Linked DNA regions of Homo sapiens. The protein of the gene in region 3 interacts with the protein of the main gene of each other region in a biochemical or structural test. Each region holds a gene or a part of one and is shown on either strand. Other genes may lie near its edges. The genes, in order: GLI1, PIP4K2A, RPS6KB1 and EEF2K.

Region 1 (4,963 bases), on a different chromosome or scaffold from region 3:
AGTACTGAGTGGGATGACATTCATGTGGTCACCGGAGCCCTGAAGCTTTTTCTCCGGGAGCTGCCCCAGCCTCTGGTGCCACCACTGCTGCTGCCCCATTTCCGTGCTGCCCTTGGTAAGGGTTGGAGCTTTGGAAAGAACCCTTGATGTGGGGGACACGGGTGGTAAATAATAGAATAGAGGTTCCCTTATACTCTTCTTTCCCATTCTGACTTTAGAGATGGAAAATAATGTTCAACTCAGGTGCCTACTCCAGTTGCTTTTTTGTGAATGTTTAGAGGGCTGAATTGAAAAGAATTATGAGGCTATAGTTGGGCTATGTGAAAAAGAAAGCTGTGCTAGATTAATGATGTCTTCCATGCCTGTGGGAAAGAGCAGTGCATTTACCCATCCTGTCCTAGCACCTTCCCTAACCTTACTACCATGCCTTTCCCATCACTCTCTCTAGCACTCTCCGAATCAGAGCAGTGCCTCTCTCAGATACAAGAATTAATAGGCTCAATGCCAAAGCCCAACCATGACACTCTACGGTACCTCCTGGAGCATTTATGCAGGTCAGGAAGACAGAACCTCTTTGTTCATGCTGGGGAAAGGTGGAGTGGGGAATGCCACAGGGACTCTGTGCAGGTGGAGTGAAGGTAGGGAAGCACCTAAGTTTAATGGGCAGGTGAGGAAGCAGGCAACCTCTGTGCAGGAGCATATTACCAGAGTCAAAACCTTTATTTTTTTATTTTATTTATTTTTGAGACAGAGTCTCGCTCTGTCACCCAGACTGGAGTGCAGTGGCGCAATTTCAGCTCACTGCAACCTCTGCCTCCCGGGTTCAAGTAATTCTCCTGCCTCAGCCTCCTGAGTAACTGGGATTACAGGTGCCCGCCACCACGCCTGGCTAATTTTTGTATTTTTAGTAGAGACGGGGTTTCACCATGTTGGCCAGGCTGGTCTCGAACTCCTGACCTCAGGTGATTTACCCACCTCAGCCTCCCAAAGTGCTGGGATTACACCGTGCCCGTCAAAGACTTTAGGTCAAAACCTAAAGGTCAGCATCAAGTGGGGAAATGGAACCAAGATGCTGTGAAAGGAATAAGGGAAATCTTACTTCTCCCTTCCCTCTGCCTCTTTGTCTCCCATTGGGACATTGCTGATGGCTTCTTTGGTTGAACTGGGCCTGGGCAGTGACTTCTGAGAGAGGATGGCCACTTGAATTAAAGACTCCCAAACTGTGAGCAGGCAGAACTCTTGGGGCAGCCCCTGAAGTCGGAAGAGGCAGTTATATCTTCAGGTTGTATCCTGAAGGTTTCTCCACTGGTCCATCTCCATTCTCCTTGTATCTCCTTGGTTTTTTTGTTACCATGTGGAGGAATCCCAGAGTGAACTCTTCCCTGCTCAGAACTTTGAAGGGTTAGTTAGATTGCTATGAAGTGGCAAGCTGCTGCCATATATCCCCTTCCTTGGCCTTTGCTTACAGGGTGATAGCACACTCAGATAAGAATCGCATGACACCCCACAACCTGGGAATTGTGTTTGGACCAACCCTGTTTCGGCCAGAGCAGGAGACATCTGACCCAGCAGCCCATGCTCTCTACCCAGGGCAGCTGGTCCAGCTGATGCTCACCAACTTCACCAGCCTCTTCCCCTGATGCAGGGAAGGAAGAAGAGAAAACATATTTCCGGTCATCTCTGGTGGTGAGAGGCTGGTGTTCTGTTTTGAGGATATCCCTTTAAATCTCCCAAATGACTGTCTCTATCTTCATGAGTGTGACTTGAGGTGTTGGGATGGGTGAGGGAGCTTCTCTAAAGAGGAAAGTGAGTGGATTAACCCCTGCTTCTCTTCTTGTTCCCTGTTATCATTCCTCCCCAACATAATAATACATAAAGTGGCATGGTATTTTTTCTGATGCAGTTCCTTTATTATCAGGAAACAGTGTCATTATCAAATTTCTCCTCAAAACGTATACAGACTATACATAGCCCCCAGCCCATACCTCCCATCCCTGGGGCATCTTGTGCATGGGACTGCAGCTCCCCCAATTTTTCTGGAAGGATAGAAACCCCTTAGGAAATGCGATCTGTGATGGATGAGATTCCCTACTCTTTAGGCACTAGAGTTGAGGAATTCTGTTTCCCCAGGTAGGGATCTCAGTAAGACACTCATGTTGCCCACAGCCATGTTGGGGGGCCCAGAGGGAGGTGGGGTATGTCCAGAGCTGCCCCGCTGATCATGGGAAGGAGGAGGACTCAGCCCCTGGGGCTCATCCAGAATAGCCACAAAGTCCAGCTGAGTGTTGTCAAGATCAAGAGAGTCCAGGGGGTTACATACCTGTCCTTCGGGAGGAGGGTACAAGGCAGGACCCCCTCCTAGCCTGCCCACCTCAGGATGACCACAGCTGGGGTTTGTGCCTCCCACTTTGAGAGGCCCATAGCAAGTGGGCAATGGGGGCAGAAGTCGAGGTGGTGCTGCTGCCCTATGTGAAGCCCTATTTGCCCCCACTACAAAATTTTCATGGCATGGTGAAGGGGTGGGATAGGAACCTGACTTGTGATTGGGCAAGTTGGGTCCAAAGCCAGGTCCATATGTGTTCACTGGAGCTTTAGCACGGCTTGGGCTAACCTGGGAACCCCCCAGAAACTTGGGACTCTGGTAGGAAGGTTCCTGGGCGGGGGCATCTTCCCTGCCCCCACCCTCCCACAGTAGCTCCTGTTGAGATTGAACATAATTACACACAAGCTGAGCCTTGAGCTGCCCTGTGGAATGGGTGGGGGAATCAAAGTCCAGGCAAGGCCTGGGTTCTGAAGGAAGATAATCAGGGGGTGGCTGGGTATAGGGGCCTGACTGGAGATATTGGGGAGGAGAGGGCTGGGGGTAATGGGAAAAGAGAGGCTGTGGATGTGGGGGCCCCTCACTGGGGTGGGCATTGAGGCAGGGTGCCAGTCCTGTGGAGTCAGACCCCACTGGGCACCCCTGTTCTGGCTTGACTTGCACTTGTCCATAATGTTCAAGTCGAGGACACTGGCTGTAGGTTCCACCTAGAGCCTTGGGGCCTGGGTACAGCCCAGAGTGGGAAGGGAACTCACCCCATGTTTCTTGGGTGGGGTCAGGATATGAGGCCTGCTGGGGACAGGGGTTGGGGCCATAGTTGGTGGGTGGACCAGGCCCAAGAGGCAGAGAGCCTGGACCCCTCGCTCCATAAGGCTCAGCTGCTGCCCCTTCAGGTCCCCCATATCCCAGAGTATCAGTAGGTGGGAAGTCCATATAGGGGTTCAGACCACTGCCCACCATGGAGGTCCCAACTTCTGGCTCTTCCTGTAGCCCTCTAGCATCCATGGCAGCATTCTCAGTGATGCTGGGGGGCTGTGGTGAGTAGACAGAGGTTGGGAGGTAAGGATCAAAGTTCTGTCCTCCCCCTGCCACAGTGGGTGGGGTATGGACACAGCCCAGGCTCTTGAACCTCTGGACTCTAGCTGGAGCAGGACGGTCAGCAGCCTGGGCTGGGTCACTGGCCCTCCGGGTGACCCCTGCATTGGGGTTGTATCCTGGATACTCGGCTCGGCTTCTCCAAGGAGGCATGGGAAGACCACCTATCCGATCCAGGCTGGATGCTGCAGTGGGCGAAGTACCACCCCCTCTGGCTGAAGCATATCTTGCCCGAAGCAGGTAGTGCTGGGCAGGCATAAGGCCAGGCAGGGAGGATGCTCCATTCTCTGGTGGGGAGCCAGGGGGGAAAGGAGAGGCCAGGGAGGAGCGGCGGCTGACAGTATAGGCAGAGCTGATGCTGCTGGAGCTGCTGCTGCGGCGTTCAAGAGAGACTGGGGGGCCCACGCGGCGGGACACAGTGGTACCTGCAAGTGATGGGGAGAAAAGGTAGGATGGTCAAGGAGCTTCCTAAATTTCACCCTGCCTCCTCCATGCAACAGCCTTGCCCTGGATTCTCAGGGGTAAGCTCGTTATCCCTAACCAGTCTGTTCTGTCTCCTACTTCTCCCATGCCTATTCTGTTTCTGGGTTACCAAGGATTCAGGGTTGCTATGAACAGTTGTGCAGGTTGTGTGCTGCACAATCCTAGGGAACAGCATTCGCATCATAGCCTTTGCATACTTGTTTGTTTGTTTGTTTTGTTTTGTTTTGTTTGAAACAGAGTTTCGCTCTTGTTGCTCAAGTTGGAGTGCAATGGCGCAATCTCAGCTCACTGCAACCTCTGCCTCCCAGGTTCAAGCAATTCTCCTGCTTCAGCTTCCTGAGTAGCTGGGATTACAGGTGCCCACCACCATGCCTGGCTAGCCTTTGCATGTTTGTACATCACAACTATTTTCTGATAAATGGAAAGTGTCTTGAGGAAGGACACCATTTTCTAATTATACAAAAGTGCTGTGTGACAGCCCTCAAGGGTGACTTCCTCCTCTCAACCTCAGGGCAGGTCCAGATCTCACCCCAGCCACACCTCCCACACCCAGGTCTCACCGGTGTGGGACAAGCTGGGCAGTTTGAGACCCCGGGTCCCTATTGGCCGGAGTTGATGTAGCTGGTCCAGCCTGAGGTTCTCAAGGCGGCGAAGAGTGGACAGACCAGTGCCAGCAATGCAAGGTCCCTCGTCCAAGCTGGAGAGGTCTTCAGTGCTGCCCCCTGCATTGCCAGTCATTTCCACACCACTGTCTGTATTGGCTGCACTCCCTGCCGGGGAGTGGTCACTGCTGCAGGATGACTGGGCCCCAGGGCTTGGCTGTGGCTTCTGTGGAGAAGATGAGGTCTGAGGGCAACACCCTTCCCCACAGCTCCTTCAACTTGATGAGTGGCTGAAGCCTGTGTCCCAGTGACTGCTGGGGTTCCAAGGAAGCTTGTAAGTGTAGAAAGGGCTAAGCAGGTAAGAGATGGGGGAGCAAACTGAATGTGAGACGTTTGATGAGAAGAACCTAGGCTGGAGCACGGACTGGCTGGACTCAAATTCTTGCTCTTAGTTCTATGACCT
Region 2 (8,979 bases), on a different chromosome or scaffold from region 3:
GCAGAGGAGATTTTCTTAAGACACTGAAGCTATCTGCTGTTAATTCCTTTAAAAAAAAAAAAAAAGCACCTAGTTCATTTTCAGGTGGCCTCTTTAAATTTAGTAATGGTTCTAAAGTGATACAGAATTATTAATTTTAACTTCAGAGAAATGCTTTTTACTATTCTAATAATTTTCTGTTAAAGTTAATTATTTTTACAGCAGTAAATTTCAAGTCCATAATTGTGATCTAAGTTCTCTCTTAAAAATTAAGCCCCAAGGCCAGGTGCACTGGCTCATGCTCTGGGAGGACGGCTTGAGGCCAGGAGTTTGAGACCAGCCTGGGTAACATAGTGAGACCCCAATCTCTACCAAAAAAAAAAAAAAAATTAGCTGGGCATGGTGGTGCACACCTGTAGTCCTAGCTACTCTGGACGCTGAGGTCGGAGGATCACTTGAGCCCAGCAGTTTGAGGCTGCAGTGAGCTATGATCACACCACTGTACTCCAGCCTGGGCAACAGAGCAAGACCTTGTATCAAGAAAAAAAAAGAAACGCCCTAACAGGAGTGTTGGCTCCCACGCAGTTTTAATAGCAGATGAGCAACCACATCCTTCCTGTCCCACTAGCCAGCCCTCAGCTCTTCTGTGTACACAGAGCCTCAGCTCAGGGTCTGGACCTCCATGTAAACCACAACCCCAGGCCATCATGAGACAATGTCACCGGCAGCCTGGTCAGCGCTGCTTTCTCCAAACATGGCAGCCTCTCTCATGCCTGAGTAAACATATGAAAAATTCCTGGAAATTTTTGGCAATGGTACAGAGAGGGCAGTGGGAGCACAGATCTTTAGGAAAGTGTGCTAACTATCTCAGTTTGCCTGAGGGACCCTATTCTTCAGAGGAAAATACAGGGTAAGCTGTATCAGTACTCAATCTGTAGTCACCCAGGGTGGCAATATGTCACTTAATGCAGGATAAATTCAGATCTTAAATTGAGGGCAGATTAGGACTAGATTTGAAGGGACTTAAGTCAGTATATGCTGAGCATCCTTTATTTGAAATGCCTGCAGCCAGTCGTATTTCAGATTTTTTCAGATTTCAGAATATTTGCAAAGATAATGAGATATCTTGGGGATGGGACCCAAGTCTAAACACGAAATTTATCTATTTCATATACACCTTATACACATAGCCTAAAGGTAATTTTATACAATATTTTAAATAATTGTGTACATGAAACAAAGGCTGTGTTGAGCACTTAACTGTGGAATTTTCCACTTGTGGCATCACGTTGATGATCAGAAAATATTCGATTTGGAAGCATTTTGGATTTCAGATTTTCTGATTGGGATACTCAACCTGTCCCTTGGATTTCCACTTTTAAAAAAAATCCTTAGCATTTACGAATCTGGCTCGCTATATGAAACTTGGGTAACCAATGTCAAATCCTTTCTCAGAAAAAAATGATCATGGCTCAACAGTTATTTAAAGAGTTAAAACAGATGTTTAAAAGTTAGAATGAAGGACCAGGCCAGTGTGGGGAGGAGAGCAGCAGTGCACATTTTTACGTGGTGGGAATCAAGATGAAGAGGAAGATGTACCACAGGACACGCCCAGGATGTTGGGTTCCTGGTGCTGACCACAGTGCTATGGTCACTCCACAGTCCAGCACTGCAGTGCACAAAGGGTGCCCTTTGACAAAAATGCTGCAGCAAGAGTCTGACCAACTTGAAAAGCAGCAAATCAGCAAGATAAAGATTCCTGAGAGTCCTAAGTAGCCTCTACGAAGATACAAAACATGCACACTCACACAGGCTACTGACATGTCTGACAGCAGAAATTAACAGGCAGCTCTGCTAGCCTGTTAATTTCCACCTGGAAATGAGAGTATTATATAAAACCCTCACATGCTCAGTCTCCTTCCAAAGAAAAGTAATATATTTTCCTACTGACTTTTATACCGGTATCATATGTATAGAGGTCCCCAATCAAGAGAACACTTTACTTCAGCATGAACATTAAAAACTTCTTACACAAAATGAAAATTACTATTATATAATACTTTTATTGACAAAAATACAGATCCCAATTGACACAGCAAAAGTCATGGCAAAACCCATTTCCTACTGGAAGCAAATGTTACAAACGCAACTCACCTGGAAATCTTGATCATCAATTCCAAACCTCTCCCGCAGGTTACGGAAGACCATCGGGCAGTATTCCTTAAACTTGAAATGGCTCGGCATGTTTTCTCTGAAACAGTCACAGCGTGGAATAAAGCTCAGAGAGAGTCAATCAGACTTGCATCTGCCACCACTGAGTTCCACAGGTAGCCAAAGAAGGGTTCAGAGTTCACTGCCTACCAAAAGCACAGGTGTGCTTCCTAGAACCAGGTACAACCCGCAGAAAGATCCAGGAGACACAGGGGGCCAGACGGATGTCTGTCTGTCTCCTTTGTCACAGGCACGCTTGGACTATGTGACCTCTTTAAATCCTGGCCACACACTGCAGCCATTCCTCAAAGAACAAGAGGTGGGGAAGGAACGGGCCAGGCAGGGGGAGCAGTGAGGGAAAAGCACAATGGCGGGAGAGTGAGTTAGGAAGAGGCAGCGGAGCAAGGTTCCCTCTCAGCTACTGCTGAGGAAAGGAGGGCCACTCCCTCACCCCCCTAAAAGGCCTGTTTTATATAAATGCCACATTCTAAATTTGCTTAGAGGAAATTCCCTGAAAGTCAGCTTCTAAACACTGTTATGAGAAAAATTAACATCAGCTTCACATAAGGACAATGGCCCCCTGAAGAAATTTCATAATTGGCCTGGCATGGTGGCTTACACCACTCATTTGTAATCCCAGCACTTTGGGAGACTGAGGTGGGAGGATTTCTTGAGGCCAGGAGTTTGAGGCCAGCCTGGGGAACATAGTGAGACCCCTGTCTTTACAAAAAGTTTTTTAAAAAATCAGCTGGGCATGGTAACCTGCACCCGTAGTCCCAGCTATTCAGAAGGCTCAGGAAGGGGGATTGCTTGACCCCAGGAATTTGAGACTGCAGTGAGATATAATTTCACCACTGCACACCAGCCTGAGCAACAGAGCAAGATCCTGTCTCAAAAAAAAATTTCATAATGATCCTCACATGGGAGTGATTTGAGGTTCACCCTAATCATTCAGAATTGTTTCCCTCTTTGTGTTCCCACACAACCAGATAAATTAAATTATACATATGCACACACCCCTCCCTTATCATACTTTGCACACTGAACTATAGCAGTTTGTATATGTGTCAGTTTTTGTACTCTGAGCCCCTTGAGGGCAGGGCCGTGTCTTCTATATCATTGCATCTCTAGCTCTCAATGGACCACCTAACATATAATAGGTGCTTCATAATGACGTCTAAAACAACATTCAAATGAAGGAGGAATGTTATCAATGCCCAACATGGCATCTAATTGTGCCTTATGAAAATGTACCTTGGGTCTTTATTGTTCTAAGATGGAGTCATTGCTGTTCATAAATCATCATTTTCAAAGTTCTGTGTACAAGAGCAGAGGTTCATAACTGCTCAAAAATCCAAGCAATTTACAGCTTCAAAAATTTGAATTATAATGAGAATATCACTTTCAACGTATAAGATATTCATAGAGAACAATATGCCATATGGCAAAGGATATTATCCCAGAGAGCCTGCTGTTGCTTCTCTAAAAATGACAGATGGTTATGTTTATCACAGGATTAACTTCATCAGCAAAACTTTACTCCCACCCATTGACAAATTATGTGATTACAAAAATTCACAAAACTTGTACTCCTAGCAGCCACGCTAGTCTTATGAAAGGTCATACTTGTACTTACTTGTTAAAAAGGTGATTGTCCACCTTTATTTTTGAATAGGCTTTGAAGTCATCTGGCATCAACATAACAGGGATTTGAACATGGCTCAGTTCATTGATCTGGAAAAATATAAAATAAATAGCATGGGTTATTACTATCCAGGTGAGGAGGACTTGACTTGAATGTGTACCTTGGGAAAAAAAACATGGTGGACACAGGAACTTCTCTTCCCACCCACCAACCCACCCTCCTTCCCTCTGCCATCATAATCTCTCTTCCTGCCTTCCTCATTCCCACTTCTTATGTCTGTCTGATGCTGGGTCCATGGTGGCCACCGGACGGCAGTGGTGAGGGAGAGTCAATCCTCATGCCACCTGTCCCTGCTTCTTGCCCATCCACTCTCCCTACCTTCCCTCCACAACCTCATCCCACAGACCCTTTGGTCACATGTCCAGGACAACTTCCTTCTGTAAAGAAAATGTTATCTGAGAAAGAAAGCTTTTAAATTTTTCACGTAAATATTTGTTGGATTAATGGACGTGATTTATATATTGAACTCATCTGTGTGCTCTTTACTTCCCTTACAGGAACTAAGTTTAAAAATAAAGATTGGGGTGGGGCATGAATTTACCAAAAGAAGAACCTCCATTCAGGGAAGGAAGAAGACACGTGGTCCCAGGACTACAAGAGAAGGAGGTGGGTTGGACATGAGTCAAGAACAAAAGCAAAGATGTGTTTCCAAAGGACAAAGGGTAAGATCAAGTTCCAGTGAATGAAAGGGACAGCTTTGGACACAATTTTGAAAAACCTGAACTTTCTCTTCGTTAACTATTTTTGCATGTTGACTTTCCTTGTTGCTAGCAATAAAAACCATGTCAAAGATTTATGCTTCCAGTAGGATAGAAGGCAGGTACGCTGAAGGATTCTCAGTTACAAAAACAAAACAAGCAAACAACAAAAGAATGAGCTGCTTGATAGAGCTATTTGTTTTTTTTAATCACATTGCTGGGTTCACAGACAGTAGAGGCAATCTCCAAGACACCTTTCTTCCCCCAAAGTGAGTTTAATCCACAGGGAGTGTGGGGACCATTAAGCAAGCCTGAAAGGAGGGACTCCGAGGACAAATGCCAGTTTCAACACTTACTTGGGCCAAACGAAAGCTGGGAGCTCAACAAAGGCTTCAACGTTAACCTGAGATCCTTGAAGGAAGCCTTTGAAAGTGGCCCCAACACCTGGTGGAAGTAAATGTAAATGATCTCCGGAGGAGAGCAACCCCTGCCAGGCCTCCAGGCTTCCCACAGATGAAGATCAATCAAACATGAGCTCACAGAGACAGCAACGACTAATTAATATTTTCAAGACTTTAGTTACTAAGATGATCAGATATAGAATTTTTTAAGCTGTGAGAAATTATACAGAAATAGAAGATGAACAAAAGATGATTATATTTGAAAAAATAATGATTCAGAATTTTCCACAATTAATGCACGTTATAAATCTGTAGATACAGTTGGGCACAGCAGCTCATATATGTAATCCCAGCAATTTGGGAGGCTGAGGCAGGAGGACTGCTTGAGCCCAGGACTTTGAGACCAGCCTAGGCAACAGAATTCGTCTCTAACAAATAAAAAAATAACAAAAGTTAGCTGGGCGTGGTGGTGTGCACCTGTAGTCCCAGCTACTTAGGAGGCTGATGAAGGAAGATCACTTGTATCCAGGATTTCAAGGCTGCAGTGAGCTGTGATTGTACCACTGCACTCCAGCCTGGGTGACAGAGTGGATCCATGTCTGTTAAACAAAAAACAAACAACAACAACAAAAAAAAAACAAAAAAAAGCAGAATACTCAAAGCAATATATAAGTAAGAATACTCAAAGCATACCTAGATACGCTGTAGTTAAACTAAAGAAGGCCAAATGCAAAGAGAAGAAAGGAATGGTGGCCAGAGAGAAAAGGCAAACACAACAGAGGAATGATAGTGACAGCTGACAGCTAGCTTCTCAAACCCACTGAACAAAAACAGGAATCTAACGTCATATAGCTTCTCCAGTTCACTTTACTCAAGCATCTTATGATACTAAGTCATTCCCAGAGTATATCTATGAAAAATTAAAGTTTATGTATCCTTATGCTATCAGTGGAATATCAAAGTTTGAAAAATAACAGAAAAAGAAAATCATAATGGAAATCCAAGTCTTGTGATAATAAACACAATGCGAATGAAGCTGGATGCCAACTCAATCAGCACTTCGATATCTTGTGGAACAAGAGAAAGCGAAACCCAACGTGGAGGTGGGATCAGACACTGATTATTTAAATGCGCGTGATGTGTTCAGCAGATCCTCCAAAGCTTTGATGCCTCCTCAGGCTGCTTAAATCAGTATCACTTAAGAGAGTCTTCTCAGACAGGAAACAGGAAACCAGAAACTTTCTGCATCCTTTTGCTTTATGGTACCTGCTCTGGAACATGTTTTGTGGAGAAAATATGAAAACTTCAGCCAACATGGAATGAGTAAACTGAGAATTTTCCTTATTGATTTTCCTTCCCCACCCATCCTCGCGTCAGCACAACCTTTAAGAGTCCACTCTGTGCTGGGCACAGCTCGGACACCAGTCTTTGTCCTCTTGGGGCTTATGGTCCAGAGGGGCAGACACATTAACTGAAGAACTGCCCCAAGTGTTGAACTCTAACAATGACAGAGTCAGGAGGGAGAAGCACAATGGGCTACGAGCAAGTATGGAAAAGGCCCAGGCCAGATGGGGGAGGCATGTGAGGCTTCCCTGGGCAGCAATGGCTCGTGGAGAAAGGAGAGGGCAGGTGGACAGGGCTTCCAGGAAGAAGGCGAGTCCTAGAGAGGAGGGGACACTGTTAATGGGAAAACAGTGCAGAAATAGACAAGGTGCGTGGCATGAAAGGGATGAACAACAGGCCCAGGAGCACCGGGAAGCGGCTGCTGTAGAATTGCACCAGACAGAGGAGAGCAGCTCAGCAGAGGGCGGAGGCGGCAGCAGAAACGAAAGAAGCAGAGAGACTCCGGCATGCTGAAGTGCTGAAATCTATGGGGCTTGATGATGACAGACTAGAAATGTAGGGAAAGATGGAGGGAATGCTGCATGCATGCGGGGGAAGCTGGTGGGTCCAACGACTGGCACAATGCATCTTAAGAGAAGAGTTCAGTTTTGAGCTTGTTAAACTTCATGCGCTCTTGGGACATCTAAGTGTCAATGTCAGGTAGGCCGTGGACAGGTGGGTCTGAAGTTCCCAGGGGCAGCAGGGGCAAGAGATAAAAATGTGTGTATCTGTGCATCAGACATTAGCTCCCCAGAGGAGTGGATGAGGTAACCTGGAGAGGGGCCGGTGTGATGGGGAGGAAGGCGGAGAAGCAGTCTTCAAGAACGGGAATGTTTCCAAGCCTGGAGAAGAGGATGAGAAAGGGGAAAACTGCCATCGAGGCAGGAAGTGAAAAAGCACAGGGCCACCCAATGGGAGTGAAGGGAAAAGGGGGTTCAAACATGCTATGGGATGATCATGATGCTTTTGAGAAGGCAGGGACTGGGAAATGTCAGCCAGATTGAACGGCACAGGAGGTCCTTGGCAACCTTGGCAGAGTTGTTTCGGTGGAGTGTAGCAATGGAACCCAGACTAAGTTGAGTTAAGGAAATGCTGGCACTGCACAGGGCTGATTTCTAAGGAGCCTGGCAGGGAAGGACAGGAGCGAGATGAAGAGGGATGAGGGACAGAGGGAGGACCTGACAGAGAAGGGACATTCCGTAGCACTTCTCGAGAAAGTGGGAGGGGATGGGATTCAGGCATGCAGGAAGGAGAGGCTCTGAGGAGGGAAGCGACTTTCCTGTTCACAGGAGGGAAAAGAGATAGGTGTCATGGGGAGGGAGCAGAACTGATGGAGGGAAGATGGGGCTCCCGACCACTGGCTCCTATTTTCTCTGGGGATTAGGGCCATGGCCACCTGCTAAGAGTGAGAAGCAGGCTGAGGACTTCAAAGGTTAAAGAGAACACAGAGAGCTTAAAAAGGGGACTGCAGAATGTGGATGGACAAGTTTAAATAGAGACAGGAGGCTGGGCTTCCGGGCAGAGCTGAGCGTCATCCACAGTTTGTGATGGTTCACGTACAGGAACCAAGTGAACTTGTGGATGACATTCCTCATTCTGGCAGAGCTCAACCCCAGGGTGCAGGTGCAGAGACAGGATGACAGGCGTTCTTCAGGATGGAGGGTGTTTGCTGGCTGAGTGTGACATAAAGGGGAAAGGAGTTCCAGGACCATCACTTGGAAATGGAAAGTCAGTACAAAACAAGATCCCTGACTGTAAGGAGTTTTCCACTGTAGTCGATGGTGCAAGACCTTCACATGTAGTAAAATACCAAGCAGCACAGAAGAAATGCTGAAGCCAGACAACAAGTGCCACAGAAGCACAGAGCAGGAGCCCGTGGTCACGGGTGTGGGTGACGGGCTTCTTGGAAGGAGTGCAGCCCTACATGGCCCTTGAGGGACGGAGAGTTCTGACTACTGTGTCATTTAAATGTCAGGGAAACACAAACTTTTAGCTATTCCCCATCTTCCAAAACCAGACTACCCCAAGAGGTAGAGAATGTTTGGTCCTCTTTATCTAAGAAGACAAGAAATGAGACAAGAAGAAAAATCAAATGGTTTACATGGAATCATAAGATGCTGAAATTAAAAGAGAATTTCGGAGATCATATAGTCTAACCTCTCATTTTGCAGATTGTAATATGTCCTGGTACAGCAGTATCTATACCTTCATAATTGAGTAGTGCGGCAGGATACTGAGTTAGATCTGACAGCTACTTTATGGCTACTTTATCTTTCTTCCAGGTGGCCTTTCATTCTTTACATTTGCATCACATTGCTTTTGGCTTTATTTCCCCTCCGGATTCCCCCCAGAAAACTTCTTCGTCAGGTGGTAGCTAGATTTAATGACTTGTAAACAAACACTTCACAAAACAGAGGATCTACTACTTAAAAGAGAAGCTTTTAATTAGTAAACTATTTTTTCAATAGTGTACCCATGAGCCTCTATATTATTTTTTCTACAACACATTTTATTGTGTTGTATATGAGGCTTAGCGATCATTCGTCAGTTTTACTGAAATGGATTACTTGCAGAGCTGCTTAATAACTGAAAAGACATTTAA
Region 3 (8,979 bases):
TTGTATTTTTAGTAGAGACGGGGTTTCACCGTGTTAGCCAGGATGGTCTCGATTTCCTGACCTCGTGATCCGCCCGCCTCGGCCTCCCAGAGTGCTGGGATTACAAGCGTGAGCCACCGCGCCCGGCCAAATTTTTTTTTTTTTTTTTTTTTTTGAGACAGGGTTTCGCTCTTGTTGCCCAGACTGGAGTGCAATGGCGCGATCTCGGCTCACTGCCATCTCTGCCTTCCAGGTTCAAGTGATTCTCCTGCCTCATCCTCCCGAGTAGCTGGCATTGCAGGCATGGGCCACCACGGCCGACTAATTTTGTATTTTTTTAGTAGAGATGGGGTTTCTCCATATTGGTAAGGCTGGTCTCGAACCCCCAACTTCAGGTGATCTGCCCGCCTCGGCCTCCCAAACTGCTGGGACCACAGGCATGAGCCACCGCACGTGGCTTTTTTTTTTTTTTTTTTTTTTTTTTTTTTTTTTTTTTTTTTTTTTTTTTTTTTTTTTTGAGATGGAGTCTTGCTCTGTTGCCCAGGCTAGAGTGCAGTGGCGTGATCTCGGCTCACCGCAACTTCTGCCTTCTGGGTTCAAGCAATTCTCCTGCCTCAGCCTCTTGAGTAGCTGGAACTACAGGCATGCGACACCGCACCCGTCTAATTTTTGTATTTTTATTAGAGACTGGATTTCATCGTATTGGCCAGGCCGGTCTCGAACTCCTGACCTCGTGATCTGCCCGCATCGGCCTCCCAAAGTGCTGGGATTACAGGTGTGAGCCACCATGCCCAGCCTGTCATATAAAATTAAAAGCAAAAGCTGGGGCCGGGTGTGATGGCTCACGCCTGTAATCCCAGCACTTTGAGAAGCCGAGGAGGGCGGATCACCTGAGGTCAGGAGTTCGAGACCAGCCTGGCCAACATGATGAAACCCCATCTCTACTAAAAATGCAAAAATTAGGGCCGGGAGTGTTGACTCACGCCTGTAATCCCAGCACTTTGGGAGGCTGAGGTGGGCAGATCACAAGGTCAGGAGATCAAGACCATCCTGGCTAATATGTGAAACCCCATCTCTACTAAAAATATAAAAAATTAGCCAGGCATGGTGGCAGGCACCTGTAATCCCAGCTACTCGGAAGGCTGAGGCAGGGGAATCACTTGAACCTGGGAGGTGGAGGTTGCAGTGAGCCGAGATGGCGCCACTGCACTCCAGCCTGGGCAACAGAGCAAGACTCCATCTCAAAAAATATATATATATACACAAAAATTAGCCAAGCATGGTGGTACATGCCTATACTCCCAGCTACTCAGGAGGCTGAGGTAGGAGAAACACTGGAACCTGGGAGGCGGAGGTTGCAGTGAGCTGAGATGGCACCGCTGCACTCCAGTCTGGGTGACAGAGTGAGACTCCATCTCAAAAAAGAAAAAAAAAAAAAAAACCCGGGTGCCTATAGTCCCAGCTACTTGGAACGCTGAGGCAGAAGAATCACTTGAGGAGTTTAAGGCTCTGGTATGCTATGATCATACCCCTTCATAGCTATTGACTGCATTCCAGTCTGGGCAACATAGAAAGACCTCATCTCTATTTGTAAAATAATTTAGAGTGAAATTCCCATAGTGTTGTTTGTGTACTGTGTTTTGTTCATTACCATATTTGCCTGTTGTTGAAGTATAAGAGAATTGTTAGGCTGGTTTATTTCATTCATTCTCTTTCAGTTATGAGACAAAGAATTAAACCTTTAAATTTTATGTTTATTAGATTATTTCTGAAACTTTTAACATATTTTTCAGGGTCAGTTAAATGAAAGCATGGACCATGGGGGAGTTGGACCATATGAACTGTAAGTTTATATGAAGAGATTTTCATTGTGTTGTCTTTCTTACAAGTAGGTTTTATCAGTTCTATTTCGTAGCAATCATGTGATTCCTGTAACCTGTTCTTAAATATGTAGTCATATTTATCAACTCGATGTATTGAATTTGGCACCAAAATCTGATCAATATAACCTATCAGAGTTTTGAGATTATGTATGGATTTTGAGGAAAAGATATTAATTCAGATTCAGAGTACTAAATATGAATCTGAGTTGTTAGTTTAAAGAGCCACAGTTTTAATCTTTTCTTACAGAAAAATTTGTAGAAATGCCTCAAAAAGTCAAATGCTTTCTGTTTTGCTTAAATATACAAACAGAAATTCATACAGTCATTCAAACAGAAATTCATGCAATCCGGCTGGGCACAGTGGCTCACACCTGTAATCCCAGCAGTTTGGGAGGCCAAGGTGGGCGGGTCATTTGAGATCAGGAGTTCGAGACCAGCCTGGCCGACATGGCGAAACCCCGTCTCTTCTTAAAATTCAAAAATTAGCCGGGCGACATAGCGAGACTCCGTCTCAACAGCAACAACAAAAAAGAAATTCATGTAATCTTAAGTCATTTTAGACAAGCTCCATTAGGTGAGTATGGTGATTAATCTGCTCTGTATTGTACTCTCAAGTAAAAAGCATTAGTGTAGGAGGAGAATGAGAAGATAGATCACTCATGTAGAAAGCATTTAAATGACAGAGACAATTGCTACCCCTTTTGGATTCTTTATTTTTATTTTTTTGGAGATGGAGTCTCCCTCTGTCACCCAGGCTGGAGTGCAGTGGCACAATCTCGGCTCACCACAACCTCCACCTCCTGGGTTCAAGCGATTGTCCTGCCTCAGCCTCCCAAGTAGCTGGGACTACAGGAGCGCACCACCACACCTGGCTAATTTTTGTTGGGTTTTTTTTTTTTTTTTTTTTTTTTGAGACAAAGTCTCGCTCTTGTTCCCAGGCTGGAGTGTGATGGCATGATCTCGGCCCACTGCAACCTCTGCCTCCCAGGTTCAAGTGATTCTCCTGCCTCAGCCTCCTGAGTAGCTGGGATTATAGGTTCCTGCCACCACGCCCAGCTAATTTTTGTATTTTTAATAGAGACGGGGTTTCACCATGTTGGCTAGGCTGGAATTTTTGTATTTTTAGTGGAGACAGGGTTTTACCATGTTGGCCAGGCTGGTCTTGAACTCTCGACCTCAAGTGATCCGCCCACCTCAGCCTCCCAAAGTGCTGGGATTACAGGCATGAGCCACCACGCCCATTGGATTCTTTAAATCAAGCTAATAACTTGAAAAAACAGATACAGAGAAGAAGTTTTGTACTATGATGTGAACTAATTGGGTAGTTTTGGAAAGATCCCTGATTTTCTGCTGACATTGCCAAATGAGGTTGGATAATACCTAATTTCATAGATATTTTCAATGAAGTAAATTTGAATAACTGCAAGACTTTTTTTCTTTGTCAACTTAATGAACTTTTTCTAACTTACCTTAGCTTTGGGGTGCTTGATGCTTATGAAAATAAATAATTGTCTTCTTTTACTTTGTTGCACTCCTAAGAGCAAGATGGGTCACCAGCAGCTGTATTGGAGTCACCCATGAAAATTCAATCAGGGTTCTTGCTCTTGTTGTGTCTGCTCAAACTGGCAAGGTCTGATCCAGAAATACGGCCTCAATATGTGCGCCAGTGTTTCTATCAGTAAACGAAGGATATAGATTTCATTAAGTTGGACTAAGTGATCTTACTTGAATGGATTATCCAAGGCATCTACCCAATGAAAAACCATAGTACCCCTTTATGCATAAAATAAACAATTATAAAAATAAGTAAATAATTGATTGCCCATTCTATGAACAAGGAGGCAAACGATTATCAGGCCACCCTCCTCTTGACCTGCTGTTCTGTTTGTTTAGAGCACAAATAATTTGGTGTCATGTACTTTTTTACTTTTACTTACTTAGATTACATTTCTCTGTCTCCTTTTTCTTGACTATATGCTGAAAGTAATTTAACTTTTTGCAAATTTATTTTTGGTTTTGCTTTTCTTCCCAGTGGCATGGAACATTGTGAGAAATTTGAAATCTCAGAAACTAGTGTGAACAGAGGGCCAGAAAAAATCAGACCAGAATGTTTTGAGCTACTTCGGGTACTTGGTAAAGGGGGCTATGGAAAGGTAGGCAATATTTTTGAAATGAGAGCTGTTGTCTGTCTTGAATAGATTGATTTTTATGCCCTGGTTCCAGCAGTCATCTTCAGTCTTTGTCAGCTATCAGCAAAGGATGTGATCATGACCACTTAGCTGGTATGTTTGAGGGATGTACAGAAGTTCAGTTTTCCCTTCTTTTCATACCACCACACATGTAAAAGCCTGGCACATAATAGGTACTCAGTCAAGGTTCATAGAATACATAAATAGACAACTGTACCAGGCAAAGTCTATTATTAAAGGGTTCATTCTTTACTTTGGTTAAATGGTATCCTCTTTAAAAATAAAGCCCTCCTTGCTTACAAGAGACATGGCAGTCTGAGTTGTTATCTGTTACTGAGACCTTAATCTCAACTGGTTTTCTGGAGCAATAGAATTGGGGAAGCTGAAGGAATATAAAAAGGGGGAAGAAAACTATTTAGTTTCACAGTTTTGCCCAAGGCTTTACAACTTAAGACGTCACTTTTATGAGTTCTGCCCACAAAACTTTTTACCAAACTATTCTCTTATCAAAATAATTTAGATAATAACTTGGTTAGTATTAAGTTTTAAGAATTATTTTTGCTATTGTGTAGTGTTAATTTTTGCAAAGCAGACATTTGTAGCCTATTCTTATGCTTAAGAACACATTGTAATTTCTAATCATCCTGAATGTGCAACACATGCACTTTGAATCTCACATGTTTTAGGTGTTGCATGAAAATGTTTATAGTTGTCTTTCAGTATGGGGGAGGGGTAAGGGAGAACTGATTCCAAGACCTTTGCAGATAACAAAATCTGCCGACGCTCAAGTGCCTTATATAAAATGGCATAGTATTTGCATATAAGCTACACACATCCTCCCATATGCTTAATTTTTTATTTTATTTTTTATGATTTTTGAGACAGAGTCTCGTTCTTTCCCGCAGGCTGGAGTGCAGTGGCACGATCTCAGCTCACTGCAACCTCTGCCTTCCAGATTCAAGCGATTCTCCTGCCTCAGTCTCCCGAGTAGCTGGGATTACAGGTGTGCGCCACCACATCCGGCTAATTTTTGTATTTTTAGTAGAGATGGGGTTTCACCATGTTGGCCAGGCTGGTCTTGAACTCCTGACCTCAGGTGATCCACCCGAGTTGGCCTCCCAAAGTGCCGGGTTTACAGTTGTGAGCCACCTCACCTGGCCATATTTGTGTTATTTTTTATTGTTTGTATTGTTTATTGTTTTTTCCCCCAAATATTTTCATTCTGCGGTTGGTTGAATCCACGGCTGCTGAACCTGTAGATTCAGAGGGCCAAGTATTAGTACAAACTATTTTAAGTAATAGGTAAACAGTAATTTCCTGCCAACTATTTTTAAATAGTTTTATGTGAAGCAAGGGCAGTGGCAAGCAACCTTGAAAGAAATTTATGAAATATTTTATAATTTTTACTGCCAACTATTTTTAAATAGTTTTATGTGAAGCAAGGGCAGTGGCAAGCAACCTTGAAAGAAATTTATGAAATATTTTATAATTTTTAAGGTGGTATTATGCCTCTGGGAACACTGTTTATAGCTTGTTCTAAGTAGGATTTTATATATTAATATAAAGTAACAGTGTTTATTATTAGATGGTCATTGTCCAACATTACCACCAGATGGCAGCAGAACAAACAGGAAAGTCATGATCATTAATGTGGTCTGTTCTTTTAGCTGATCATTTTTGCACATAGTTTTTATAATATAAACTGCTGTGGCATATGTTTCTTATAACTAGGAATTAAGGGAGTATGCCTGACATAGTTTGCCTTTGAATAACACACACTTTTTTTTAATCCAGGTTTTTCAAGTACGAAAAGTAACAGGAGCAAATACTGGGAAAATATTTGCCATGAAGGTGCTTAAAAAGGTGATTTCCACTCCCCCTTTTTAGTCCTCACACACCATATTTTTACACTTGATCTCAGCCAAAAGGCTGGGAAGCAATCATATCATATTTTTAATTGTTGTAACATTTTGGCCTAAAATTTGCAGTCAAAAAAATGTATCTCAAGCCAGGTACAGTGGTGCACACCTGTGGTCCCAGCTACTTGGGAGACTGAGTCAGGAGGATTGCTTGAACTTAGGAGTTCAAGGGTAGCCTGAGCAATGTAGTAAGACCCAGTCTCTTACAGAAAAAATGTATTTATTTTCTTTTCTTTTTTTTTTTTTTGAGACGTAGTCGCGCTCTGTCGCCCAGGCTGGAGTGCGGTGGTGCGATGTCGGCTCACTGCAACCTCCACCTCCCGGGTTCAGGTAATTCTCCTGCCTCAGCCTCCCGAGTAGCTGGGACTACAGGTGCATGCTGCCACGCCCAGCTACTTTTTTGTATTTTTGATAGAAACGGGGTTTCACCATATTGGCCAGGATGGTCTTGATCTCCTGACCTCAGTGATCCACCTGCCTCGGCATCCCAAAGTGCAGGGATTACAGGCATGAGCCACCGCACCCGGCAAAAAATGTATTTCTAACACAGTTGCAATACTTTTTAGAATGTGAGGTATGTTTCATTACTGTTATTCCTATTTTTATTTCTGCTTGGTGAGTGTGGAAAAGAGAGCTCTTGCAATTCTTTGCTGAGGTAACTCTTCACTGTTTCTGATCTCCTTATTTCTAAGTAATAAGCATGTACTGCCATCTCTTTTTTTTTGAGATGAACTCTCACTCTGTTGTCCAGGCTGGAGTGCAGTTGTACAATCTCAGCTCACTGCAACCTCTGTCTCCCAGGTTCAAGTGATTCTCCTGCCCTAGCCTCCCTAATAGCTGGGATTACAGGCGCCTACCACCACGCCTGGCTAATTTTTGGATTTTTAGTGTAGACGGGGTTTCACCATATTGGCCAGGCTGGTCTCGAACTCCTGACCTCAGGTGATCCATCTGCCTCGGCCTCCCAAACTGCTGGGATTACAGGCACGAGCCACTGCGCCTGGCCTACTGCTATCTTTTTTTTTTTTTTTTTTTTTTTTATTGTGACAGAGTTTTGCTCTTGTTGCCCAGGCTGGAGTGCAGTGGAGTGATCTCGGCTCACCACAACCTCCGCCTCCCAGGTTCAAGTGATTCTCCTGCCTCAGCCTCCCTAGTAGCTGGGATTACAGGCATGTGCCACCACGCCCGGCTAATTTTGTATTTTTAGTAGAGATGGGGTTTCTCCATGTTGGTTAGGCTGGTCTCGAACTCAGGTGATCTGCCCGCCTTGGCCTCCCAAAGTGCTGGGATTACAGGCATGAGCCACCATGCCCAGCCAACTGCTATCTTTTTAATTCAGCAGTTTTCAATTTTTTTTTTTAGACGGAGCCTCACTCTGTTGCCCAGGCTGGAGTGCAGTGGCGTGATCTCAGCTCACTGCAACCTCCACCTCCCAGGTTAAAGCGATTCCTCTGCTTCAGCTTCCTGAGTGTCTGGGATTACAGGCGCCCACCACCACACCCGGCTAATTTTTGTATTTTTAGTAGAGATGCGGTTTCGCCATATTGGCATGCTGGTGTCGAACTCCTGACCTCGGGGGATCGGCCCGCCTTGACCTCCCAAAGTGTTGGGATTACAGGCGTGAGCCACCGAGCCTGGCAGTATTAACTTTCTTTTATGCGAGTTAAGGATTTGTTTCTTGTTTACTTCACCCTCCTTTATCCTCATCCTCTCATTTTGTTTTGCTTTCTTTGAATCTACTATTGTCCTCTGATGTCTTCCAACAACTTTGTAAAACACCTTTCAGTCTAATGTTCTTTGATCAGGCTTATAAGATAATCTATCAGTTCCATTTATTTCCCAGAGGCATATCTTAGGAACTTTCTATCCACCTGTTCCCATCTGGAGTGGTAGCTCTTTAGTCACAACTGTTATGACTGGACTCTTTCTTCACCACAACCCTGGAATCCTCTTGGCTCCTTCAGTGTTGGATCTTTTGTTTCCTGGATCCCATATCTTCATTTTTTCCCTTTTTCTTAGTTTATGTCCTTGTTTTGGTGACACTATACTAGTGGCTCCCTCAGACAAGGTATATAAAGATACATTTATAATAAAAATATATCCATATTGCATATTTGAGAATTTCTTTACATTTTTATTTACTTGATTGTTTATGTTATTGGAGTTGAAAATTATTTTCACTTAGAATTTTGCTCAGTTTTCTTCTATTCTTGAGAGTTTCTGTTGAAGTGCTTTGGCATTCTGATTCCCAGTCGTTTACACATGGCCTATTTTTTCTGTGGAAATATTTAAGATTTTCTCTTTATTTCTGATCTAAGTTTTTATAGTGATGTGTGTTGCTTTGACTTTGATTATTATTTTTATTTAGTTAGTTTTTGAGATAGGGTCTCGCCCTGTCACCTAGACAGGAGTGCGGTGACACAATTATAGCTCAGTGCAACCTCAAATTCCTGGGCTCAAGCTATCCTCCCACCTCAGTCTCCTGAGTAGCTGGGACCACAGACACGCACCACCAGGCCTGGCTAATAAAAAAAAATGTAGAGATGGGCACTCACCATGTTGCCCAGGCTGGTGTTGAACTCCTGGGCTCAAGTGATCCACCCGCCTCGGCCACCCAAAGTGCTGGGATTGGATTACAGGTATGGCCCACTGCGCCCGGCCTATTTAATTAAATTAATTAATTTATTTATTTTTAAGAGACAGGGTCTCACTCTGTTTCCCAGGCTGGAGTGTGGTGGTGTGATCATACTTCACTGTAACCTGTAACTCCTGGGCTCAAGCGATCCTCCTGCCACAACTTCTGAGTAGCTAGGACTGCAGATGCATGCCACCACGCCCAGTTCATTTTTAAAATGTTTCGTAGAGACAAGGTCTTCCTGTGTTTCCCCGGCTGGCCTGGAACTCCTGGCCTCAAGCAGTTGTTCTGTTTTGGCTCCCAAAGTGTTGGGATTACAGGCATGTGCCACTGTGCCCAGCCTATTTTTATTCTTTTAATCTTAAAGCTTTAGT
Region 4 (8,979 bases), on a different chromosome or scaffold from region 3:
TTTGCAGGGAGCTGAGATTGCACCACTGCACTCTAGACTGGGCAACAAAGCGAGACTCTGTCTCAAAAAATAAAAAAGATCCACCAATTTGTTTTTCTTGTGCTTTTTGTAACTGTACAGTACTTTTTGGCTGATTACGGATATATCACTGGCTGGGTGTGGTAGCTCACACCTGTAATCCCAGCCACTTTGGGGGTGCTGAGGCGGGAGGATTGCTTGACCCCAGGAGTTCAAGACCAGCCTGGCTGACGGGGTGAAACCCGGTCTCTATTTAAAAAAAAAAAAATCTCTGATTTGCTTTTAAAACATTTTACTGTATTATGTGGCAGAGAAAGCTATGGGTCACCAGTACCCATGTTCTCGTCCTCCTGGGGTGCTCCCTGGATGAATTTTCCTAGGCTTCCTTACCATTCGGTAGGGCCACACGGCTGAGTTTTGGCTGATGAAATGTGAGTGTGTCCATTTCAAGCCTCGACCCTAAAAACCTCTCACTCTTTCCTTATTTGTTGGACAAGTCAAGGCGACTTTGAAGGCCTAGAGGAGGGCAGAGCCACAAGCCAGAGGGAGTGTTTGTTGTTTTTGAGATGGAGTCTTGCTCTGTTGCCCAGGCTGGAGTGCAGTAGTGTGATCTCAGCTCACTGCAACCTCTGCCTCCCAGATTCAAGTGATTTTCCTGCCTCAGCCTCTTGAGTATGAGCTGGGACTACAGGCACATGCCACCGTGCCCAGCTAATTTTTGTATTTTTAGTAGAGATGGGATTTCACTGTGTTGGCCAGGCTGGTCTCAAACTCCTGACCTCAAGTGATCCACCCGCCTCCCAAAGTGCTGGGATTACAGGCATGAGCCACCATGCCCACCCGGGAAGGATGTCTTTAGGGTTGTTATCTTGCTGTGGGGAGAGTCCCCAAAGCAGTCTTGTCCAGTTTTTGGCAGGGTTGTCGTCTGGTTGCCGGGACTCTGGGAGCTGTGTGAAGAAAGCCAAGGGTGAACAGCAGAAGCTTGGACTTGTTCAAGCTCGTTCTCCGGGATTCACTATTTCTGGTCCAGTTCTTACACCTGAAGCAGAACAACTGAATGATCAGGGCTATAGACAAAGTAATAGCGGCAGGTTGAACTAATTTAAAAGAATCAGTGTTTTTTGTTGAGGGAGATTGGTTCTGCTGACCTGAAAGCTGCAGGTTATTACCCTGATGAACTGAGAAGGCTCCTAGAAGGTGGTTAGAGCGATGACCTTGTCTCCACCTGGGATGAAAGCGGCTTGGGCCTTAAAGTGTTGCTGGATCAAATTCTTGCAGCCAAGGCTGATGAGCACAAGCAAGGAGGCTTCTTTTTTGTTGTTGTTTTGAGACAGGGTCTTGCTCTGTCACCCAGGCTGCGGTGCAGTGGCACAGTCACAGCTCACTGCAGCCTGGAACTCCTCGGCTCAAGTGATCCTCCTGCCTCAGCCTCCCAAGTAGCTGGGACTACAGACATGAGCTACCACCATGGCTGGCTAACTTTTAATTTTAGTGTAGAGATGGGGTCTCACTCTGTTGCCCAGGCTGGGCTTGAACTCTGGGCTCAAGCGATTCTTCTGTCTGGGCCTCCCAAAGTGTTAGGATCACAGGCATGAGCCGTGCCCAACCATATAAGAAGGCTTCAGACAAAGGAAGGAGTGAGTCACTAACACGCTGATGATAAAGCAGAAAATAACAGTGCTCCCCACAACCCCCAAAGTCCCAGGGCTGTGGGACTCCTAGAGAAGCGTCTCAAATGGCTCCAGAGTCAGAAGGTGGATGGCGTTCTGTTCTCCAGCTGTGAAGCTTTCGAGCTCTAGCAAGGACTAGCAAGCCAGAGGAAGCACCCGGAAGTAGGTGGCTAAACTGCGGAAAATTGCCCTAGGCCAGCGTTTCTCTAACTTCAGTGCACATCAGCATCCCCAGCAGGACTTGCTTACACTTTGATTGCTGGACCCATCCCCAGAGTTTAATTTAGTAGGTCTGTAGTGAGGCTTGAGAATTTGCATTACCAGCAAGTTGCCAGGTGAGGCTGCTGCAGTGGCTGCTGCGGCAGCTGGTCCCATACTTTTAGAAGCGCTGGTTAAGGAAGTGATGACTGCATTGAAAGCTCTGGATTCAGCCCGCACCAGCTTCAAACCCAACTCTAGTCATGTGATTTGGGATAAGTCACATAACCTCTCTGTTCCTTAGTTTTCTCATCTGTAGAATGAAGCTAAGAGCGACTAACTCCTGGGGTTCAGGGGAGGCTTCATGAAGGAGGTGATATCTAAGCTGAGACCTGAGGGATGAGCAGTCAAGTTGGCCAGGGGATGAGTAGGGAGGACAGGCTGGGGTGTGTACCAGACAGAGGGCATAGCATGTTCAGAGCCCGAGGAGGAAGGAGTGCCTGCCTTCTAGGGAGCTGGGAGGAGTTATGTAGCAAGTGCTTTGTAAGTGATACTGAAATGCTACCAATCTGTTCTGGGCAGGATCACAGTGGAGAGGAAGCCAACCAGGGTATGGAAAATGGGCTGCTGGACGGGCTCAGAAATGGTACAAGTTATTTGTGCTCTTTCATTGGCCAGAATGCAGTCACATGACCTTACCTAGCTGCAAGGGATGCTGGGAAATGTCCGTGGCCAGGCAGGGGAGAAAGGATTCCTGGAGGAAAGCCAGCTCTCTGTGCCACCTGTGGTTTTCAGGCCCCCTCTCTCACTTCTTCTCCACCTTGCTCACTTTGCTCCACTCTGTTGAGTAGATGAATTTTACAGATGAAGAAGCTGAGGTTCAGAAGGTTAAGTAATTTCCCCCAGCATTCCTCAGCTGACTGTGGCAGGGCCAGGACTTGAATTCATCCCAAAGGCCTTGTTTGGCTAGATCTGGTTTTGGTGCTTATCAGGTCCTCCATGAGCCAGTCTTTCCCACTACGACCTCAGCCATGTCATTGGACTAAGTAACTCCTATGTAGTTACAACACAGTAGGTTGTTTTGTTTGTTTTTGTTTGTTTGTTTTTTCGGAGGTCTGGGGGCGGGGGGATAGAGTCTTGCCCTGCTGCCCAGGCTGGAGTGCAGTGGCACAATCTTGGCTTACTGCAACCTCTGTCTCCTTGGTTCAAGTGATTCTCATGCTTCAGCCTCTCAAGTAGCTGGGACTATACAGGTCGTGTGCCACCACACCTGGCTAATTTTTGTATTTTTGGTAGAGATGGGGTTTCTCCATGTTGCCCAGGCTGGTCTCGAACTCCTGGCCTCAAGTGATCTGCCTGCCTCGGTCTCCCAAAGTGCTGGGATTACAGGGGTCAACCACCGTGCCCAGCCACAACCCAAAAGTCCTTCTGTTTCTCCATTATATCAGCAGGAAACTGCCAGCTTTTCTTCACTTACTCGTTCATTCATGCAGCATGCACTTGTGCATTTATGGTGTGTGCCAGGCATTGTGCTTTGGGCTGGGAGCTGCAGAGGAACAAGACACACGGCCCCTTTTGTTCAAGACACTCACATGGTCTGGCCACCGAGAGGGCTGGGCACACAGTTCATGTGAGAAGTGAGACGTGCTGTATCCCTGAGCTGACCCACCAGGAGTAGAGTGTACCGTGGACATGCAGAGAGTGCCCAGCAAGTGATTAAACATTACAGTTCAAGCTCCCTTGTGCATTTTGCTAATCAAAGCTATAATTATATTTTGTGTTTCATATTCCAAAATGCATTTTTCAGATTCCTGAAACAATAAAATAGCCCTTGCATGATGACAGTTTTATATGCAGAAAACACAGTGTACTGCAATGATATTTTTACGAGCCTTTAGCAGAGCAAATGATGACGTATCTCTGGCTTCTGCAGCAGGTTGCTGTTTACATCGGTAAGTTGATTTCTCTGTCTCTTTCTTTTTTTTTTTTTGAGACAGAGTCTTGCTGTGTCACCCAGGCTGGAGTGCAGTGGCACGATCTTGGCTCACTGCAACCTCCGCCTCCCAGGTTCAAGCAATTCTTCTGCCTTGGCCTCCTAAAGTAGCTGGGATTACAGGTACACACCACCACACCCAGCTGGTTTTTGTATTTTTAGTAGAGATGGGGTTTTCACCATGTTGGTCAGGTCTCAAACTCCTGACCTCGTGATCCGCCTGCCTCGGCCTCCCAAAGTGCTGGGATTACAGTCGTGAGCCACCGCACCTGGCCTTCTCTGTCTCTTTATGGTATGTGGGGAGATTTGTTTTTAAAAGGAAAAGGGGAAGAGAGGGTTGGGGAGGGCTCCTTAAAATTACACCAGAGGCTGGACACAGTGGCTCACACCTGTAATTCCAACACTTTGGGAGGCTGTGGCTGGAGGATCACTTGAGTCCAGGAGTGGCAAGACACCATCTCTACAAAAAATTTTTTAAAATAAGCCAGGCATAGTGGCACAGGCCTGTAGTCCCAGCTACTCAGGAGGCTGAGGCGGGAGGATCCCTTAAGCCCAGGAGTTCAAGGATGCAGTGAGCTGTGATTATGCCACTGCACTCCAGCCTGGATGAGAGATCAAGACACCCACCCAGTCTCTTAAAAAAGAAAGAAAGAGGCCAGGCACAGTGGCTCACGCCTGTAATCCCAGCACTTTGGGAGGCGGAGATGGGTGGATCACCTGAGGTCAGGAGTTCAAGATCAGCCTGGGTGACATGGTGAAACCCTGTCTCTACTAAAAATACAAAAATGAGCCAGGCATGGTGGCACACACCTGTAATCCCAGCTACTCAGGAGGCTGAGGCACAAGAATCACTTGAACCTGGGAGATGGAGTTTGCAGTGAGCCAAGATGTAGTTGCTGCACTCCAGCCTGGGCGACAGAGTGAGACTCCATCTCAAAAAACAAAAGAAAGAAATTCCACCAGATTCATTCTAGAGCTGGGTTTCTCAGCCTCGGCACTGACATTGGGCCGGACCTTCTTCACTGCAGGGGACTGTTCTGTTTATTTTAGGATGTTTGGCAGCATCCCTGGCCTCTATCCACTAGATGCTAGTTGCACCCCTAGAGTTTCAACAACTGAAAATGTCTCTAGACATTGCCAAATGTCCCTTGAGGGAGCAAAATTGCCCAAGGTTGAGAGCTGCTCTTCAGGACTTCGTTAGTTTCCAATTGCTGCTGTAACAAATTGCTGCAATTACTTAGTGGCTTTAAAACAACACATTTATTATCTTATAGTTCCTGGGGATCAGAAGTTCTAAAATCTAGGTGTCAGCATGGCTGTGTTCCTTCTGGAGGCCCCAGGAGAAAATCGGTTTCTTTGCCTTCTCCAGATTCTAGGGGCTGTCCTCATTCCTTGGGCTCCTGGCCCCTCCCTTCCATCTTTGAAGCCAGCAGTGTGGCAACTTCACACCTTTCTGTCTTTGGTCACATCTCTTCCTCTAACTCTGACCCTTCTACCTCCTTTTTATAAGGATCCTTGTGATTACACTGGGCTCACAGGATAATCCATGACTGTCTCCCATCTTAAGATCCTTAATCACATCTGCAAAGTCCCTTTTGCCATATAAGGTAACATATTCACAGGTTCCAGGGATTAGGATGTAGCCATCTTAGGGGAGCCATGTTTCTGCCTGCCGCAGACAGTCTGGCCTCAGGTTATAATGAAATTTGCTTGTGGAGGGTTTGTAGGGAGCGAAGTGATTTAGGGAGTCGGGGACTGGAGGATTATTGGGACATAACAGCAGCTAGTACTTTTGAGAGTCAAGTCTATCCCAGACACCATGTGCCTAATCTCATTGTATCCTCAGAACAACCCCTGCAGGGGTACTGTTAGCTGACCCCTGTTTACAGAGGAGGGAACTATCCAAGGAAGGCTTTCTGGAGGCCAGGTGCAGTAGCTCATGCATGTAATCAACTTTGGGAGGTCGAGGCAAGAGGATCGCTTGAGGCCAGGAGTTCAGAGGCAAGAGGATCACTTGAGCTTGGGAGACTGAGGCTGCCGTGAGCCATGATTGCACCATTGCACTCCAGCCTGGGTGACAGAGTGAGACCCTGTCTCAAAAAAAAAAGAAAAGAGACCAGCCTGGGCAATGTAGGGAGACGCCCATCTCTATAAAAATAAAATAACATAATTAGCCAGATGTGGGTGGTATGCACCTGTAGTCCCAGGTACAATGGAGGCTGAGGTGGGAGGATCACTTGAGCCCAGGAGTTGGAGGCTGCAGTGAGCTATGATTGCACCACTGCACTCCAGCCTGGCCAACAGAGCCAGACTCTCTCAGCAACAACAACAACAACAAACCCAAAAGAAACAAACAAGGAAGGCTTTCTGGAGGAGGTCAACATTTGAGCTGCGTCTTGAAGAGATTAAAGGGTTTTGCTAGTGAGTGGGAAAGGGATTCCAGGCAGAGGTGTTACTGGTGGAGGGTGTCCAGGTTCTTGGCATTTTGAGCAAAGAATTGGACAAAACACACGAACAAAACAAGGAAAGAAAGCAACGAAAGCAAATATTTACAGAAAACAAAAGTACACTCCACAGGGTGGGAGTGGGCTTGAGCAGATTGCTTACAGAATTGCCTGGGGTTTAAAAACCCTCTAGAGGTTTCCCATTGGTTACTTGATGTACACCCTATGTAAATGAAGTAATGGCCTGGGATCAGTCTGATAGGTTGTGGAATGCGACCAATCAGAGGCTGAAGTGAAGTTACAAATGAAGACTCCTATACAAACGAGGACTTGGCCAGCACCAGCCTGATTGGTTGTGGGAAGGGACCAATCAGAGGTAACTTCAGTTTTTCATCTGCCACGCAGGTAAGTTGGGGGTTGCAAAGGGAGTAGCCTCTGGTCCTTTTGTTACTTGGGCTTGGAAAGTAGGGGTTTTCCTTTTGATTTAGTTCTAGGAAGTCAGCCTGAATCAGCCTTAGGTTCCCTGCCTCCAGACCCTATTCGCCTGCCTCAGAGGCACCTGCAGATAGATACAAGGGCAAGGAGGTGAGGAGAGTTTGGTGGTGCATGGAGATTGATTCTTGGACTTGGAAACTTGGGAAGCTGAGATGGCAGGGAGGAAGGGACGGATGGGCTGGACTCTGTAAATTGGTCCTTTCATTCTGATGTACTATTTCTCTCAATAGTTTAAATAAATGTTTATGAGCACCCATTATATGCTAGGGGTGCAGACATTAAGACACTGATGTGAACTCTTAGCTTGATGCTTGACTTAATCACTCCTAATGCTGCATCCCAGTAAATAAACACTGAGCAGCCAGACACGGTGACTCACACCTATAATCCCATCTCTTTGGGAGGCTGAGGCGGGTGGATCACTTGAGGTCAGGAGTTCAAGACTAGCCTGACCAACATGGTGAAACCCCGTCTCTACTAAAAATACAAAAATTATCCAGGTGTGGTGGCGGGTGCCTGTAATCCCAGCTACTCGGGAGGCCGAGGCAGAAGAATCACTTGAATCCGGGAGGCGGAGGTTGCAGTAAGCCGAGATCACGCCACTGCACTCCAGCCTGGGTAACAGAGGGAGACTCCATCTCAAAACAAAAGAAACACTAAACATAAGGGTATTTGAGTTCATGTTGAGCACCTGTGCACTGAAGGCAATACAAGGTATGGGGGGAGGGATGGAGACAGCAGTGCAGACCTTAGGATGTCACAGCCCACCTGACAAGTCTATTGTCTAGGAGAGGGTCCCAGCTCCTAATGGTGGGGCCCAGGATTCAAACCCTGGCCATGCGGCTGTAGAGGACAAGCTGTTAGCCACTGTATTGGGCTTTGGTTTTTGTTTCTTGTTTGAAGGAAACTCGGGACTCCAGCTAGGGTTTAAAATATCTTCAGAACAAGCCAGGTGCAGCCCTCAACAGCCTAGCGCTGTGTAGTTCCGCTCCCTTAAGGTTGCCTTTTCAGAGGTAGACTGTCACTTCTGGACCTAGCAGCTCCTGTCATTGTCAGAGGAGAGTCCAGTGTAGCACCTGGTGTGCAGTCAGTCTTTCACGTGCATTATTTGTCTTTCTTATTTCCATAGAAATTACGCCTTTTTGAGGTTGATAAGCTTTTGAGGTTGATAAGCAGATAAGTAGCTCTTCTGCTTACTTATCACTCATTCACAGCACAAAAGCCACACTCTCCCTTCTCTGAATTCGTGTTAAACTGTGAGAAACTCAGCTTCTTCTAGTTGGTGGAATAAGACAGTGTCCTTGGCATGGTATGTAAAGGAACCAGATGGCTGGGCACTGTGACTCATGCCTGTAATCTCAACATTTTGGGAGGTTGACGCGGGAGGATCACTTGAGACCAGGGGCTTGAGACTAGCCTAGGCAACACAGCAAGATGCCGTCTGTAATAAATAAATAAAGGAACCAGAAGAAGACCTACCAGTGTAGGGATAGGGTGGGGAAGGGAAGTAGTAAGGGGAAGTAGAGCTAAAGTCTCATTTATCATACCTGGAAATCAGAAGATAGGATGAAAATAGATAAATTAAGAAATAATCAGGGCCGGGTGCAGTGGCTCATGCCTGTAATCCCAGCCCTTTGGGAGGCTGAGATGGGTGGATCCCTTGAGTCCAGGAGTTTGAGACCAGCTGGGCACATGGTGAAATCCCATCTCAACAAAAATATACAAAAATTAGCTGGGTATGGTGACGCGTGCCTGTGGTCCCAGCTACTCCGGCGGCTTATATGGGAGGATCACTTGAGCCTAGGAAACAGAGGTTGCAGTGAGCCAAGATTGCGCCACTGGACTCCAGCCTGGGTGACAGAGCAAGACCCTGTCTCAAAAAAAAAAAAAAAAAAAAAAAGAATCAGGAAGCGTATTATTTAGTGATATATATAGATAGATAGATAGAGAGAGAGAGAGAGAGAGATGCGAAGGATAACACTGAGAATAGTTGGAAGTAGTTGCCTCTAGGGTTGGGAAGTAGGGCTGCCCGTGCAAAGTTGCAAAGGTTGTTCACTAGAGTTGAGCAGTACCCCACCTATATGATCATATACAGTGGCCCTAGTAAGAAAAAGGTGTTTAAAGCATTTTTAAAATTATATATAAATAATATACAATGGCC

The links.
Region 1: of the proteins of RPS6KB1 (region 3) and GLI1, one has a biochemical effect on the other in vitro, tested with the Homo sapiens proteins (one study listed by IntAct).
Region 2: of the proteins of RPS6KB1 (region 3) and PIP4K2A, one has a biochemical effect on the other in vitro, tested with the Homo sapiens proteins (one study listed by BioGRID).
Region 4: the proteins of RPS6KB1 (region 3) and EEF2K form a complex in vitro, tested with the Homo sapiens proteins (one study listed by BioGRID).

Annotation. Positions count from the first base shown.
Region 1 is NC_000012.12:57,469,194-57,474,156, reverse strand, and holds the end of GLI1 (zinc finger protein GLI1), read right to left. Parts: intron 4,727-4,963; coding exon 4,459-4,726; intron 3,841-4,458; coding exon 2,096-3,840; 3' UTR 1,889-2,095; downstream 1-1,888. Other genes in the region: ARHGAP9 (rho GTPase-activating protein 9), read left to right, coding at 1-115, 449-554, 1,469-1,640. UniProt on the Homo sapiens protein: Acts as a transcriptional activator. Binds to the DNA consensus sequence 5'-GACCACCCA-3'. Regulates the transcription of specific genes during normal development.
Region 2 is NC_000010.11:22,605,794-22,614,772, forward strand, and holds part of PIP4K2A (phosphatidylinositol 5-phosphate 4-kinase type-2 alpha), read right to left. Parts: intron 3,925-8,979; coding exon 3,827-3,924; intron 2,231-3,826; coding exon 2,134-2,230; intron 1-2,133. UniProt on the Homo sapiens protein: Catalyzes the phosphorylation of phosphatidylinositol 5-phosphate (PtdIns5P) on the fourth hydroxyl of the myo-inositol ring, to form phosphatidylinositol 4,5-bisphosphate (PtdIns(4,5)P2). Has both ATP- and GTP-dependent kinase activities.
Region 3 is NC_000017.11:59,908,790-59,917,768, forward strand, and holds part of RPS6KB1 (ribosomal protein S6 kinase beta-1), read left to right. Parts: intron 1-1,772; coding exon 1,773-1,822; intron 1,823-3,894; coding exon 3,895-4,015; intron 4,016-5,845; coding exon 5,846-5,914; intron 5,915-8,979. UniProt on the Homo sapiens protein: Serine/threonine-protein kinase that acts downstream of mTOR signaling in response to growth factors and nutrients to promote cell proliferation, cell growth and cell cycle progression.
Region 4 is NC_000016.10:22,208,466-22,217,444, forward strand, and holds part of EEF2K (eukaryotic elongation factor 2 kinase), read left to right. Parts: intron 1-8,979. UniProt on the Homo sapiens protein: Threonine kinase that regulates protein synthesis by controlling the rate of peptide chain elongation.